2 separate regions of the Homo sapiens genome follow, and region 1 is reported to be linked to region 2. The links are microRNA targets in miRTarBase. Many come from high-throughput screens and were not tested one by one. Region 2 holds a microRNA gene; the other region holds the end of a gene's coding sequence.

What was found. Region 2 holds the annotated microRNA hsa-miR-6885-5p (AGGGGGGCACUGCGCAAGCAAAGCC, at 1,511-1,535, shown strand). A microRNA usually pairs through its seed, bases 2 to 8, with sites in the 3' UTR of a target mRNA and lowers its output. Matches are read on the target gene's strand: a 7mer-m8 pairs with bases 2 to 8, a 7mer-A1 pairs with bases 2 to 7 and ends in A, and an 8mer does both.
Region 1: the mRNA of BAG5 is a reported target of hsa-miR-6885-5p. Seed matches in the 3' UTR shown: 8mer at 1,513-1,520.

What each region holds. Positions count from the first base shown.
Region 1 is chr14:103,556,240-103,560,762 of GRCh38, forward strand. BAG5 (BAG cochaperone 5) reads right to left here. Exons shown (of 2, transcript NM_001015048.3): 2 at 312-4,523. The coding sequence ends at 3,582. Among named protein-coding and RNA genes, the nearest start is that of BAG5, 4.2 kb to the right of the region's middle.
Region 2 is chr19:6,387,209-6,391,208 of GRCh38, reverse strand. It overlaps MIR6885 (microRNA 6885), which reads left to right and starts at 1,506; the gene lies at 1,506-1,571. GTF2F1 (general transcription factor IIF subunit 1) reads left to right here. Exons shown (of 13, transcript NM_002096.3): 4 at 1,572-1,765; 5 at 3,650-3,820. RefSeq lists an enhancer at 3,677-4,000.

The DNA of each region.
Region 1 (4,523 bases), not on the chromosome of region 2:
GAGGTCAGGAGTTCGAGACCATCCTGGCCAACATGGTGAAACCCTGTCTCTACTAAAAATACAAAAAATTAGCCAGGCGTTGTGGCAGGCACCTGTAATCCCAGCTACTCGGGAGGTTGAGGCAGGAGAATTGCTTGAACCTGGGAGGCGGAGGTTGCAGTGAGCCGAGATCGCGCTATTGCACTCCAGCCTGGGTGACAGAGCCAGACTCCGTCTCAAAAAAAAAAAAAAAAAGGGCTCCGCACCCAGGTCAGACAGTTCATGAAGGTGATAATATATAGAGAACACACACCTCAGACTCACAGCCTTTCTCCACTGCAAGCGTAAGAGACTGGTTTTATTTCAAGAATAACTAAGGGTATATTAACACATGTATCTCAAAGTAACATTGAATTATTGAAGACATACTGTTCCAATACTCAAACAGTTCACAGAGAGGGGACAGGAACCAATGTACTGGAAAAACACACTTGTATTATATGTAAAAATCGATGGCCAATATTTCTCTTATTAAGAGAAAAATACCCAACAAATTAAAAGGTGAAAAGCTGTGCTCAAAAAAAAAATAAAAAAACCCAAAACCTTGCATGCACAAGCTAAGCTCAGACCCTTAAAAACCAGATAGAAATTGACAAAGTCAAACAAAGGAGAAAAACTAGCTGAACTTCTCAAACTAAATTATATCAAATATATGTGCATTTTAGCAAAATAAACCACTAAACTATACTTTGTAGACATATTCATTACATTTATTTTAATAACTACTTCATTATAGGCTGACTGGCTTTCCTGTGTGGATAAAGTGTGATCTGAAAGCAACGCTGACTGAATGTAAATAAAGCAAACGTTCCCAGCCATTTTTGGCATGAACATGGACTACAGCGTTTAATGCAGACCCAAAGCCACACATTTTTGGGGAGTAGGTTTTACTTGCAGTACAGATTCTTTTCATTACAGATCACAAAAATACAATACAATGTGACAAGCCCAGTTTAAGAATTACATGCAGTAGCTCATATTAACACAAACAGCTCCCCACGAAGGCCGACAAGAGCTAAATCCGGTGTCAACAGGGTTCATTGCAGGAGTAGAATAATCCGGTACAAGGAACGAGAACAGATTGAAACCAGAAACAAAGCCATGCCTGACAGTCAATCAAGGTCAATCTGATCATTTCCATGACCAATTACCCATGTGAACAATTCAAAATGACGGTGGAAGAGCTGAGCACCCTGTACTCACACACGATGCCCACAGCTTGGCAAAAGGTACACAAACACTTGTTTGAAAAGAATGACTGAAACGTCTACTTTCAAAGAACAATGGACACTTTTAAAGGGAATGCTGACATTTAACTTTACAAAATGAAATTTAAAATGTAAGTAGTACTCTGGGGAAGAATATGCCTGAAGCGTAACCATGATTTCCCAGTGGTATAATTAAACAGAGCTCTAATTTAAAAACTCTTCCTGGGCTGGGCGCCGTGGCTCACACCCGTTAATCCCAGCACTTTGGGGGGCCGAGGCGGGCGGATCACGAGGTCAGGAGTTCGAGACCAGCCTGACCATCATGGTGAAATCTCAACTCTATTAAAAATACAAAAATTAGCCAGGCATGGTGCCACATGCCTGTACTCCCAGCTACTCAGGTGGCTGAGGCAGGAGAATCGCTTGAACCTGGGAGGTGGAGGTTGCAGTGAGCTGAGATGGCACCACTGCACTGCAGCCTGGGCAACAGAGACTCCATCTCAAAAATAAATAAAAAATAAAAACTCTTCCTCAAGATTTTAAGAGCATTCTAAAATTATGATACAGAAAAGCAATCCTACAACTACTGTGGCCAAAACGTGGATTCCAATGACCTGCCTTGAGCCCGCGGTTGCCAGGAGTTGGACCTGCAGTAGTATGGGAAGCTCACGGCCTAAATACCGACTGCCCTCTGACCCCACCGTCCAGCGATTCTAGAACATTTCTAGTAGGAAAGACATAGCAAGGGATTTTCATGATTGGGAAATACTGAGAGACAAGCTGAAGATTTGTTAAGGGCTATGCTTCTGTCATCTTTTAGGTATTTAAGGCTACTCCTTTAGCTAGCTACTTTGAGCTGTTTAAAGTGACTATCTCCCTACACAGAGTTACACAATGAGCATCTCTGAAAGAGAATATTACCCTGGATTTCCAAAGATGTACTCTAACAGGATGACCAGGCAAAAGGTGACCCGGGGGAGGAGTCTGTTATAACACTCGGACCCACATGTTCTCAAGGCACTTCAGAACTTTGGGAAATCATTTTGTACCGGATCCTCAGAAAGCATTTATGGAAATACACATCCTTTAGAAGAGAGATGCTTCACGCACGACTGACTTTAATGGCTCTTTCAGGCAACAGAGAAACCACCACATGCCCATGACATGAGCTCAGTTGTTCAGCAGGCACCCAGAGGAAGCCTTTAATTCCGAGCAGGTTTCACTGATTGGTCCTGGAGCAGGTGTAGTTATGACATTTACTAAGTGAGTGGTTAACAGCTGACTGCCTAGAAAACCTAGGAAGGCCTGGTCCCTCTGGGTTACTGACAGCGTCTACCCTCACGTTGTAAAACAGCACCGGGGAGGTGTGACAAGGCTGTCCATTTTACAGCCTTGGACAACAGAAGAGAACCATTATGTGCTACATTCAGACTTTCTGATTTAGTTTTAGTATAACCTGACATTGGTAACCCGTCTCCAGTATTCATCCTCCAACTACAGGTATGAGTGTTTCCTTTTTTTTTTTTTAAAGGCCCATTAACTTAATTTAAATGTTCCCATCCTTATGAATTTACTCACTAAGGAAAACTATAAGCTCAGATTTTACAAACAAAAGCAACTTACAAGGTATTATTGCTGGTCCTTTATCCCTTCTCTTTAATGCAATCTCAAAGGTTTTTTGGCTATTAGTTTTCATAATTTTCTTATGTTGCACACAAAAACAAGATTCCTCTCTAAAACGTAGAGGATGGGGAAAATGCAGATGCTGTTTTTCCAACTAAAAATGTTTACAAAAGAACAGACTGTCTGAACAAACAAAAAAACCCCACCCCGTTAAGCTGGGTAGGACCAATCAGGCCTTATAAGTGAAAAAAAAGCCTTCTATCGAGCATAATGAAACAGAACATGTACTGCTTGTGTTTGAACCTTACTCTTATTTAACCAAAAATTTCCCCTTTCTCATAATTTTCCTAGTATTATGTAAGGTTATGCCTAGTTCTAGATTCTGAAAGACCTGCATTTTAATGCTTGCACAACCCATTTAAAATCTACAAAAGCTGCCTCTATTTTGTTTTCTGATTAAAAACGCAAAAAAAAGGACAAACCAAACAAACCACACCACATCATACAGATAATGATCCGAATGGAAAAGTTAACGTGCTGTAATGATATTTGTCTTGCAACATCAAAAGCAGCAGATACTGAATAGAATTTGCTTCAATCATAAATACTGAGACTGAAATATGCACGTATAAATCAATGAACTGAAAGCTCTCTATACATAGAAGCACATATGAAGTGCAAAACAGTATCAAAAGTGAGATCTCTGGTATTTCAGTACTCCCATTCATCAGATTTCAGGTCGAGATAGCTGAGAATATTCTGCGCAAGCCTCACAGCTTGTTTCCTGGCAGCCTTACACTTCTCTTCTCCCTGCGGATCAACAGCATCCAGGGCTAGCAGCTGCTTGGTGAGCAGCTCTTCCAGCCGGATGTAGTTCTTATCGGTTCGATTTCCATCAAATGAAAGAACTTCTCCCTGGATCTCAGACAAGTTTCCAAGGACGTTCCAGACGGCTTTATGGGATGGGTGCTCCTCACAAGCAAACAGCTTTCTTTTCTCAAGGGCCTCCTTCAAGTCAATATATGTGATCAGAGTTTGCACCTCGATCACTGCTCTTCTCCTGGCTTCCCGGATGCAGGGGTTTTTTTCAAGACTTACCTCATCCAACTGTCCAATTAAACCCTGCAATTCTGTTTTGGAGCTCAGGTACAATTCAGAAGGGTTTTGTGCTTGGAGAAGTTCATTTTTTATTTCTCTCATTCTCTTGAGGACCTTTTCTATTTTTAAAATGGAATGATTCTGTCTCAGGTCAAATGCTTTAGTTGTGTCTGCTTCCTCTTCCAAATCCAGATATTTCAATAATTTGTTGATATCTTCTACTACCTCCCTCCGATAATTTCTGATTTCTGTCCGGCCGCACACATCTAGAGCATCCAGGTCAGCGATCAGCCCCGAGAGCACACAGGATAAGTGCCTGCAGGTCTCATTGTTGTTCACACCCATCAGAAGTGCAATCAGGACCCCTCGGGCCTTGTTCACCTCACACATCACGAAGTTGATTTTGGCAACGGAAGGATGTGCATCCTCGGAAAGCGGCAGGGAAGGCTGCTTTTTCATGCAGTCTTCGATTATCTCTTGCACCGCACAGATTTTGGTTAAAGTGTGATACCTTGCTTTCCGCAAGGAGATTTTTCCTCCAGTTTTAACATGTGT
Region 2 (4,000 bases):
TTGGGAAGTTGTAGTGTGTGTGATCTGGCTGCTATGGGGAGACAAACTGTGGGTTTGAGGGCAAATAAACGGAGACCAAGGTAGAAGCAACTGGACTGGTCTAGGTGAGTCCTGGCAGGGCACTGGAGGCAGTGGAGGTTATGAGATGTGGCTGATTCTAGAGTGTTTTGGAAATGGTATATATGGACCTTAAATCAAGAGCTTAAGGGTAATTCGGATCACATTAGCCATGTAGGTCACGATAAATTGTTAATTTGTAGAGATTTTGGTGCCTTAATGTCAGCAAGTGTTGCACAATGAGTTTCTTTTTATTTATTTTATTTTATTTTTTTGTGATGGAGTCTCTTGTCATCCAGGCTGGAGTGCAGTGGCGCGACCTGGGCTCACTGCAACCTCCACCTCCCAGGTTCAAGCCATTCTCCTGCCTCAGCCTCCCAAGTAGCTGGGATTACAGGCGCCCACCACCACGCCTAGCTAATTTTTGTATTTTTAGTAGAGACGAAGTTTCGCCATGTTGGTCAGGCTGGTCTTGAACTCCTGACCTCAAGTGATCCACCCGCCTCAGCCTTCCACCATGCCCAGCCTTTTTATTTTTAGGAAATAGATATAGGATCTCACTATGTTGCCCAGGCTGGTCTTTTTTTTTTTTTTTTTTTTTTTTGGGGACTGAGTCTTGCTTTGTCGCCCAGACTGGAGTGCAGCGCCAGGATCTCGGCTCACTGCAAGCTCCGCCTCCCGGGTTCACGCCATTCTCCTGCCTCAGCCTCCCAAGTAGCTGGGATTATAGGCGCCTGCCATCATGCCCGGCTTATTTTTTGTATTTTTAGTAGAGACGGGGTTTCACCGTGTTAGCCAGGATGGTCTCAATCTCCTGACCTCGTGATCCACCTGCCTTGGCCTCCCGAAGTGCTGGGATTACAGGCGTGAGCCACCGCGCCTGGCCTTTTTTTTCTTAAGACAGAGTGTCACTCTATCACCCAGGCTGGAGTGCAGTGGCATGATCTCGGCTCACTGCAACCTCCGCCTCCCAGGTTCAAGCCATTCTGATGCCAGGCTGGTCTTAAACTCCTGAGCTCAAGTGATCCTTCTGCCTTGGCCTCCCAAAGTTCTGGGATTACAGGTGTGAGCCACAGCACAATGAGTTTCGATATGCATGCATTCTGGAGAGATGTGTGGAAATTCTAGGTACTTAGACATTTTTTGAAAAGAATCCTGGAACCAGATGCCTGCTGTAGATAATAGGGAAGTCTAATTAATTACTTCTACATTCCTCAGATAAGGAATTTTGCCTCCGATGGCCTGCTTGATGGTCACCAGGTGGTCTTTTTCTCTTTAATTTTAATTTGGAAATAATTTCAAGCTTTTAAGTTGCAAAAATAGAGCGCAAGGCTCGCCCAAATTCCCTTTACCCAGATTTGTCAAAGGCTACCGTTCTCCTCCCTTGTTGCCAAGTGGTAAGTTGGTTTTGAGAATCTAGAGCTTGGCCTAGGGCAAGGAAGGGCGTTCCTGGAGGGGGGCACTGCGCAAGCAAAGCCAGGGACCCTGAGAGGCTTTGCTTCCTGCTCCCCTAGGCTCGGCTGGAGCGGGACTTGAGCAACAAGAAAATCTACCAAGAGGAGGAGATGCCCGAATCGGGCGCGGGCAGTGAGTTCAACCGCAAGCTTCGGGAGGAGGCTCGGAGGAAGAAGTACGGCATCGTCCTCAAGGAGTTCCGGCCCGAGGACCAGCCCTGGCTGCTCCGGGTCAACGGCAAATCAGGCAGGAAGTAAGTGGTGGGGCGGTGGCGGTGCCGGCTTAGTGACCAGTCCACATCCCCAGGCCTCAACTTACATACTTTGTGGGGTACCCTCTCTGAACCTCAGATTCCCACTGCTGCAGTGGAAGTGCTGGCACTTCCATCCCTGTAGGATTTTATTATTTATTTATTTATTTATTTATTTATGTTATCTTATTTTACTTACTTGTATTTTTTTGAGACAGAGTCTTGCTCTGTCGCCCAGGCTGGAGTGCAGTAGCACGATCTTGGCTCACTGCAACCCACACCTCCCAGGTTCAAGTTATTCTCCTGCCTGAGCCTCCTGAGTAGCTGGGATTACAGGTGCCTGCCACCACCACGCCCAGCTAATTTTTGTATTTTTAGTAGAGACAGGGTTTCACCATATTGGTCAGGCTGGTCTCGAACTTGGCGATCCTCCCGCCTCGGCCTCCCGTAGTGCTGGGATTACAGGCGTGAGCCACCGTGCCCAGCCTACTTATTTATTTTGAGACAGGGTCTCACTCCGTTGCCCAGGCTGGAGTGCAGTGGTGCGATCGTAGCTCACTGCAGGCTCCAACTCCTGGGCTCGAGATCTTCCCACCTCAGCATCCTGAGTAGCTGGGACTATAGGCACGCCCCACCATGCCTGGCTAATTTTTGTATTTTTGGTAGAGATGGGGTCTTGCTGCGTTGCTCAAGCTGGTCTTGAACTCCTGGGGTCAAGTGATCCTCCTACCTTGGTCTCCCAAAGTGCTGGGATTATAGGTATGAGCCACTGCCCAGGCCCTGGGGTTGTGTTTTTGAAGACAGTTCACTGAGTTGGTGCTTGTGCCTGGCTCTGAGGCAGCTCTGAGTGCCACAATGCAGGAAGCTTAGGTGGCCAGCCCTGGGAGCTCATGACACTTGAGATGACCTCTCAGAGGGGGCAGACTGAGGGCAGAACAGGAGGGGTCCAGGTTAGGTTGATGAAGGGTGCTCCAGGCACAGCAGTTGGGTGATAGTGACAGACACAGGCAGCTCACACAGGGCAGTGGGTGCCAGGATGTGCTGGGTCCAGCGGAGCCTTGGAAAGCTGTAGGCAGGGAAGAGGCACTCACCCAGACTGTCCGGAACTTTGGGGTAGAAAAGAATGAGGTAGAGGCCTCAAGGAGGCTGGGCAGTTGTTTAGGCTTGAGGAAATGGTGGCCCGGGCCAGGTGTCCACTTCAGATTTGGCCATGCCATGGCTGGGCGCGGTGGCTCACGCCTGTAATCCTAGCCCTTTGGGAGGCAGAGGCGGGCGGATTACGTGGGGTCAGGGGTTCGAAACTAGCCTGGCCAACATGGTGAAACCCTGTCTCTACTAAAACTACAAAAATTAGCTGGGTGTGGTGGCAGACACCTGTAATCCCAGCTACTCGGGAGGCTGAGGCATGAGAATTGCTTGAACCCGGGAGGTGGAGGTTGCAGTGAGCTGAGATGGTGCCACTGCACTCCAGCCTGGGTGCCAGAGCGAGACTCCATCTCAAAAAAAAAAATTTGGCCATGCCTTCCCGCCCCATCTTCTCACTTGGCTCCTCAGTTTCCCGGGTGTGGCCCACAGATAGCAGAGCTGGAGGCAAATGTAGACAGTTTGACTGCAGGGTTGGGCTCTCCTGAGATAATCTCACACAGTCTTTCCAGAAATGATCCCGATGTGCACACGCCCAGCACTTTGCAGGGTAGGTGCGCCGGCCCTGTTCCCCAGATGTGGAAATTGACGAGGCCCAGGTGGTTGAAGGGCCTGCCCAGGCCTCATGGGCATTTCTTGGTCTTCCTCCTATGGCAAGTGCCATAAAGGAGGCAGGCCCCGGGGGGACACGGGGGGGCTGGGGCTGGTCCCTATGGGCCAGGCCATGACCGTGGCTCCCTGCAGGTTCAAGGGCATCAAGAAGGGAGGCGTAACAGAGAACACGTCCTACTACATCTTCACCCAGTGCCCCGACGGGGCCTTCGAGGCCTTCCCCGTGCACAACTGGTACAATTTCACACCGCTGGCCCGGCATCGCACGCTCACTGCCGAGGAGGCCGAGGAGGAGTGGGAGAGGTGAGTGGGCTGGGTGGTGGCTGGGGACAGAAGTGAGGGAAATGGGGTGCCTTGCCATGGATATATCACCAGGCCCTGTGCTGGGAGCTGGGGACTCAGGGGTAACCAGGGCAGACCCCACTCGGCCGTCTCAGAGCTGTCAGTTCAGGAGGAAACAGATAGGAGGCCTTAGGGCCACAA